2 linked regions of the Homo sapiens genome follow. The protein of the gene in region 2 interacts with the protein of the main gene of each other region in a pairwise test. Each region holds a gene or a part of one and is shown on either strand. Other genes may lie near its edges. The genes, in order: ANKRD28 and ANKRD26.

What was found.
Region 1: the proteins of ANKRD26 (region 2) and ANKRD28 interact in a two-hybrid assay, tested with the Homo sapiens proteins (one large-scale study listed by BioGRID and IntAct).

Annotation. Positions count from the first base shown.
Region 1 is NC_000003.12:15,668,800-15,672,621, forward strand, and holds part of ANKRD28 (serine/threonine-protein phosphatase 6 regulatory ankyrin repeat subunit A), read right to left. Parts: exon of another isoform or gene 2,835-3,822; coding exon of another isoform or gene 2,811-2,834; exon of another isoform or gene 2,561-2,810; intron 1,758-2,560; coding exon 1,471-1,757; 3' UTR 1-1,470. UniProt on the Homo sapiens protein: Regulatory subunit of protein phosphatase 6 (PP6) that may be involved in the recognition of phosphoprotein substrates. Involved in the PP6-mediated dephosphorylation of NFKBIE opposing its degradation in response to TNF-alpha.
Region 2 is NC_000010.11:27,093,973-27,097,794, forward strand, and holds part of ANKRD26 (ankyrin repeat domain-containing protein 26), read right to left. Parts: intron 1-3,822. UniProt on the Homo sapiens protein: Acts as a regulator of adipogenesis. Involved in the regulation of the feeding behavior.

The sequences.
Region 1 (3,822 bases), on a different chromosome or scaffold from region 2:
AACCAGCTGATAATTTACAATGTCATAAAGTTTCCAGTTTCACAATACAAAAAGGATAAAATGAAATTGGGTATCATTTTGTTGCAATTTATAGAACTTTACCCATACCTGTAAGACCCTCAATGTATATGAAATCATTTTCACTGGGAAAGTGACAGTTACAGTAAAAGCAGAACCACACAAATCTTTATTTAAAAGCCGAAATATCAGCCTTCTCTCTCTCTTTTGCTATTTGAAAGGTAGTCTTCAATTTGGCAGGCAACTGCTTCTCTCTCCAAATAGTAACAGGTTACAAACATGCTACTTTAAATATGAATAGGACCTAAGGCTTTAGTATTTTAAATCTTGCCCAATACAGAAATGCCTTTCAAGAGACTTTAGTGATGCTTAATTTATGAACAACAAGGAATTATTTTCCTTTTGATTATTCACTTTTTCAAAACTCATAGATCAGAATAAACAAAAAATCCCCCAACCCATGGTGGGGACACAAAAGTAACATAAGTGACTAAGGTGTGCCATTCATAGAGAGGTTGAAGACTCCATGCCCCAGGACCACTTAGCTGCAATAGGGTGAAATAGTCTACTTTTTGATTTCATGAATTTTTTTCTAGGAAATTCTTTACATTTTCAAACAAAAATAGTACTATTTTAAACCCAAACCATTCAAAACAGGGCAACAGCCTGACCCCAATCCATCTCAATGTCTATGTCACAAGTATTTTCACCCGTATTGCACCCAGTCAGCTGGTTTTTAATTCTAATAGTATAAAAATTGGAAATTTGAAATAGTTCTGTAAAAGAAAAAAATGTAAAAATACATCTGCTTTCTCTCATGGTTTAATACAGCATTGGAAGGCTTTCAGATGTTTTCTTAAAAAAAAAACAAAACCCAAAAAAACTCAACATTTAAAACCAAATCTCAGCTTCATTTCCAGAAATATTGCAGTTTGGTTTAGGTAATGTTTCATTTAATCTACTCCAGTTTCCACAAAATGGCATTTTATTAAAAAAACCTTTCAGTTATTTGGTCCTTTTGCAATTTGCTGTGCACATAATGCCTACTGTACCAAACTTTTATTGCCTTTAAATTTAGTTGTAATTTTATTGATAAAATTTAAATCTAGTGTCTTTATTTCTTCTGTTACAATAGTGTTGCTTGTGTAAGCAGGTTAGAGTGCACAGTGTCCCCAATTGTTCCTGGCACTGCAAAACCAAATTAAACAATTCCACAAAGAATTCTGACATCAATGTGTTTTCCTCAGTCAGGTCTATTTCAAGATTCTAGAAGTTCCTTTTGTAAAACTTGCCTTTAAAACTCTTCCTCCTAATGCCATCAGATCTCTTAACATTGGCTCACTGTGGGATCTTTCCTCTTAGGTTGAATTTCTACGTGAATATCAAAGTGCCTTTTTCCTGAAAAAGCACAGTTTGAAGCTTTACTGTGAGAACTCCCTCCTCCTCAGCCTCTCAGTAGGTCTCAGAATCGGAGTCGTTGAGCTCATCCACGTCAGTGTATAAGTACTCCTGTTCCCCTCCAATGTTATTGAAACTGCAATAGGAGCTAGGTTCATTCCTCATGATGGGCAAAGCTTCAAAGCTGACTGTTTTTGAGGTGTTGGTATAACGGTTAATGGCATTGAATGTTAAGGATGATAAAGGACTACTTGATGAGACAGGCATCATGGTGGCCAAAATGAGAGCCAGGCAATCAGCCACATCCTTATTGGGAGCACAGGCCAAAGCTGGGGTATAGCCTAGAATTAAAGATAAAATTTAAAAATTAAGCATCCTGAGATGTATTTCACCAAAGACAAGGAAATAAGCCTAAAGTACTTCAACTTTAGACATATTTTACATTACTTAGCTTATAATAAATTGCTGTAACCAGCATGATTCGCAAGTTTCTAATAAGTAGAAAAAGAATAGCCATAGAAACCTAGGGTGGAAGGGGATGTTAGACTAGACAACAGAAGAGGAAGCAGGCCCAGAGAAGAATGATTCCCCAAGGTCTCACAACTTATCCGTATCCATCTGAATTCACAGAAAAAACTGGGCTAGAATAAGAAAAACACCACATATCGTGAATATTCTTTCAGGATGGTAGGCAGAGATTTACTGTTAATTTGCAGTTATATCAGTGTCAAGGTAAGAAAAAATAAAAAAATTTAATTTGTAGTTATGTAAGGAAACTTTTTGATGCTAAGAAATCTTAAATGTGTACAGCTTCATGAATCAGCCACAGGGCAGGTGCTCAAAAGATATGTGTTGAATGAATGACACTTAGTTGTCAATTTAACTTTTCTCTTGGGGTCACAGTCTCTTGAAGAAAAACAGTAGACAAACTAAGCAGATGAACTTTAAAAACTACTAAATCAAAACAAATATTTCCTTTGTAAATATTCCCTTTTTTTAAGCGGAAGACAACTGACCTTAGTCGTAAGTTACCACAAAGTGTCAACACAGCAAACCAAGGAGGAAACATTTGGTACCTCAGTTGGTACAAGACTCAGTCTTGAGGACGGAGCGGGAGAGAAGTGATAATAGTGTGATGCCAAGCTTCAATTATACCATATGGAACTTTAATAGTTTTATCACATAACATACATTTGTATAACCACCATACAGATTAAGAAAGAGAACATTACCAGCATACCAGAAGCCTCCATATATCCTCTACCCAGTCGTTACACCTTTCTTCTTCCACAATGGTAACTACTATCCTGACTTATGGGGTAGTAATTTCCTTGCTTTCAACTTGGAGTCATAAACACTATAGTTTTTTTTTTGTTTTTTTTTTTTTGAGACAGAGTCTGCTCGGTCACCCAAGCTGAAGTTCAGTGGTGCAAACTTGGCTCACTGCAACCTTTGCCTCCTGGGTTCAAGTGATTCACCTGCCTCAGCCTCCTGAGTAGCTGGGATTACACGTGTGTGCCACCATGACCAGCTAATTTTTTATATTTTTAGTAGAGATGGGATTTCGCTATGTTGGCCAGGCTGGTCTCAAACTCCTGGCCTCAAGTGATCTGCCTGCCTCGGCCTCCCAAATGCTGGGATTACAGATGTGAACCACCTTACCCAGCCTACAGTTTAGAGTTTTTAAAAAACTTAATATAAATGGAATCATGTAGTATGTATTATTTCATATCTGGCATTTTTGTGTAGCATTATATGAAATTTATCAATGTTGTATGTAACTGTAGTTGGTTCATTTTCATTGTTATACAGTATTTCATTGTGTGATTATACTATGGTTTAGTTATACATTTCAACTACTGGGCATCTGGTTGCTTCCAGTTCTCCCACATATTTTCATCTATGCTATATTGGCCTTGATAAAAAAAGGATTTTTTTTTTTTTTTTTGAGACAGGGTCTTGTTCTGTCACCCAGGCTGGAGTGCAGTATAATGATCATGCTCACTGCACCCTCAACCTCTGGGCTCAAGTGATCCTCCCACCTCAGCCCCCTGACTAGCTCTGACTATAGGCACATGCCATGCCTGGCTAATTTTTAAACTTTTTTGTAGATACAGGGTCTCGCTTTGTTCCCCAGGCTGGTCTCAAACTGCTGGCTTTAAGTGATCTTCCCGCCTCTGCCTCCCAAAGTGCTGGGATTATAGGAGTAAGCCACTGTGCCCAGCCACAAAAAGTAATTTTTCCCCCTTTGTAAAGTTCCCATTTTGTCAAGGGTCAAAGAGAACAACTGATGTCCTTCCAAGTTTGGCAGCAGTGGCTGAAGGCTGTCCGTATTTTTAATTAAATTTTATTTGTTCAAAGTAGCTGGGGGAGTGCTTCACTGCCCACACTTCTTTCAAGGGTTCT
Region 2 (3,822 bases):
CTACGTGTGGTGAGGGGGACTCAGTGGGAGGTAACTGAATCACGAGGATGGTTCCCCCGTGCTGCTGCTCTTGTGATAGTGAGTTCTCACAATATCTGATGGTTTCTTAAGGGGCTTTTCCCTCTTTTGCTTGGCACTTCTCCTTGCTGACACCATGTCAAGGACATGTTTGCTTCTCCTTCTGCCCTTATTGTTAAGTTTCCTGAGGCCTCCCCAACCAGGCTGAACTGTGAGTTAATTAAACCTCTTTCCTTTATAAATTACCCATATAATAAAGGGTATGTCTTTATTAGCAGCATGAGAACAGACTAATACACATGTTAATCCTCCGCCTTCAAAACAAGTATTTAATTTTCTTCTGAAAACAGTACAATATTTATTAGCTCTTACTACTCACCACATTAATGAAAGAGCAACCTATCTGAATAGAAAAGGCTTGACCTTTAGATTCAGTTCAACTTGGGGTTGAATCCTACTTTAAGCTGTCACTTACTCATTATGGCTTAGTAAGTGCCTCAGTTTCCTCATCAATAAAATGGGGATCAAAATAGTAGCTATCTCATAGGACACCACTGGGATGCTTACATGAGAATCTATGCAAAATGTTTAGAACAGTTCCTAGCACAAATAACAGCTCAATAATTGTTAGATATAATTACCATTACTACTGTTTAATAAAGATGTTTTAATTAAATGAAATGATACAATTATACCTAGTTGACAGTATGTTTTAAAGATCAGCGATAAGGCCAGGCATGGCGGCTCATGCCTGAATCCCAGAACTTTGGGAAGCTGAGGTAGGATGACTGCTTGAGTCCAAGAGTTTGAGACCAGCCTGGGCAACATAGTGAGACTCCATCTCTATAAAAATTTAAAAAGTAGCCAGGCATGGTGGTGAACACCTGTGGTCCCAGCTACTCAGGAGGCTAAGGCCAAAGAATCGCTTGAGCCCAGGAGGTTGAGGCTGTAGTGAGCTGTGATTGTGCCACTGTACTCTAGCCTGGGCAACAGAGAGAGACCCTGTCTACAAAAAAAAAAAAAAAATTAGAGATAACACAGTATTTCAGTGATTCTAAGATGCTCATTTTCTCACATTTCAATATCTCTGACATTGGAATGCCACTTGTAATTCATGATTTATTACAACTATAATTGGAAGCATTTTTAAAATTGAAAAACAGATTTTTAAAACAAAGTAATTCTTATTGTGTTTTCAAGAAACTTCAACACAAAAGAAACTCAGGATTCAAATGAATAGGTTGGCTCATTTTATTCAATATTTAGATTTATAGAATATATGCAGATATTTCCAATGACTAATATTCGTGTTTAAGACATAAATTTTCAAAAGGGTAATTAAAGGTTATTTCTTATAATTTTCTACCTTCAGAAACACTTTTGTTTATAAAGAGGGGTTGGGTGCAGTGGCTCACGCCTGTAATCCCAACACTTTGGGAAGCCAAGGCAGGCAGATCACTTGAGGTCAGGAATTCAAGATCAGCCTGACCAACATGGTAAAACCCCATCTCTGCTAAAAATACAAAAAGTAGCCGGACATGGTGGTACATGCCTGTAATCCCAGCTACTCGAGGGGGCTGAGGCAGGAGAATCACTTGAACCCTGGTGGCAGAGTTGGAGTAAGCCGAGATCATGCCACTTTACTCCAGCCTGGGTGTCAGAGCATAATCTCCTCTCAAAAAAATAAATAAATAAGAGGAGGGAGGAAAAGCTTCAATTGAGATTGCCCTAATAGTCTAATTTTAAATCTCTCAACTTGCTCAGGCTGGGCAGGTATGCAAACATAAAGGTTTTGAAGATGGAAAGGTCCTGAGAGATAGTAGACTATGTTTTCACCTGCAATTGCCTTGACCTGAATGAATGCACTCCACTCTGGCCTTTCTTTCCTCTTAGCTCCTAAGGAATCCACAGATCCACTTTGGATTACCCTCTTCTAAGGCCTGCTCACACCCTTAACAGGACTTTTCATATGGGATCCCAAATGGATTCTCCCTCCCACCAACAGCTCTCATACTTGACCAGAGCTCTCATCTGTCCTCTATAAACATCCAAACATTCTTTGCCAAAACAAATGCTAAGAGACCAGACCAGTCTCAACACAGGAGCCAAGCAGCTCACCAGAACTTCTCTCAGGCTTGATTTCCTGGGGATGAGTTAAATACCTGCTTCCAGAAGTGCAGGAGATTCACATCAAGCTCTATGAAGACAGTTTTATATGAGAAATCAGCAACTTTCCATCTTCCCTGACAGCTCTGTAAATTTGTCATAAAATGCATTCCCAAATTCATAGCAGATTAGCTACATTATGTATTACAATGCTAATGCAAGACTGAAATAGTTTAGAACACCACACAGCACTTATATACATATATATGAAGTTCCTGTTGTGAAAGGGGAATAAATATCATATTCATGACTAAAATAGGGATTCACCTCTGACAGAAAAGAATTTGCATAGAAGTAAAATCCTCACTTCAAAGATATCAACTCTGGCCTGGTGCAGTGGCTCATGCCTGTAATCCCAGCACTTTGGGAGGCTGAGGCAGGCAGATCACCTGAGGTCAGGAGTTTGAGACCAACTTGGCCAACGTGGTGAAACCCCGTCTCTACTAAAAATACAAAAAAAATAGCCAGGCATGGTGGTGGGTGCCTGGAATCCCAGCTGTTTGGGAGGCTGAGGCACGAGAATTGCTTGAACCTGGGAGGAGAAGGTTACAGTGAGCCAAGATCATGCCAACTCACTCCAGCCCAGGAGACAGAGCGAGACTCCATCTCAAAAAAAAAAAAAAAAGAAAAAAAAATCAGCTCTGCAAATCTTCATGTCCACTACTGTTATGTTTCCAATTCAAAGATCAAGTCTATATTCTACCACATTTTATTAAAATACTACGCACTTACATTAATATGCTTATAACTAGCGGTGGTTCACGCCTGTAATCCCAACACTTTGGGAGGCCAAGGCAGGCAGATCACTTGAGGTTAGGAGTTTGAGACCAGCCTGGCCAACAGGGTAGAACCCCATCTATACTAAAAATACAAAAATTAGCCAGGCATGGTGGCACGTGCCTGGAATCTCAGCTACTAGGGAGGCTGAGGCAGGAGAATTGCTTGAACCCAGGAGATGGATGTTGCATTGAGCCGAGATCACACCATTGCACTCCAGCCTGGGCGAAGAAGCGAGACTTCACCTCAAAAACAAAAAAGGCCAGGCGCGGTGGCTCAAGCCTGTAATCTCAGCACTTTGGGAGGCCGAGGTGGGCAGATCACAAGGTCAGGAGATCGAGACCACCCTGGCTAACACAGTGAAACCCTGTCTCTACTAGAAATACAAAAAAAAAAAAAAATTAGCTGTCCCAGCTACTCAGGAGACTGAGGCAGGAGAATCGCTTGAACCCAGGAAGCAGAGGTTGCAGTAAAGCTGAGATCTGGCCACTGCACTCCAGCCTGGGCAACAGAGGGAGACTCTGTCTAAGAAAAAAAGAAAAAAGAGATAGTAGACTATGTCTGCTACATAACAGGTATTCAGGTTATGATTGATGAATAAATGGATTGAAAGAATGGAAAAATCATTAGGGAGTTCAATATTTTTAAATAAAATTCTTATAAAGTAGAGTAATTCTTTTATTCTTTTGCAATAATATTTATCTTTTTTTTGTTTTGTTTTGTTTTGTTTTTTTGAGATGGAGTCTCGCTCTGTCACCCAGGGTGGATTGCAGTGGTGCAATCTCAGCTCACTGTACCCTCCGCCTCCCAGGTGCACGCTATTCTACTGCCTGCCTCAGTCTCCCAAGTACCTGAGACTAC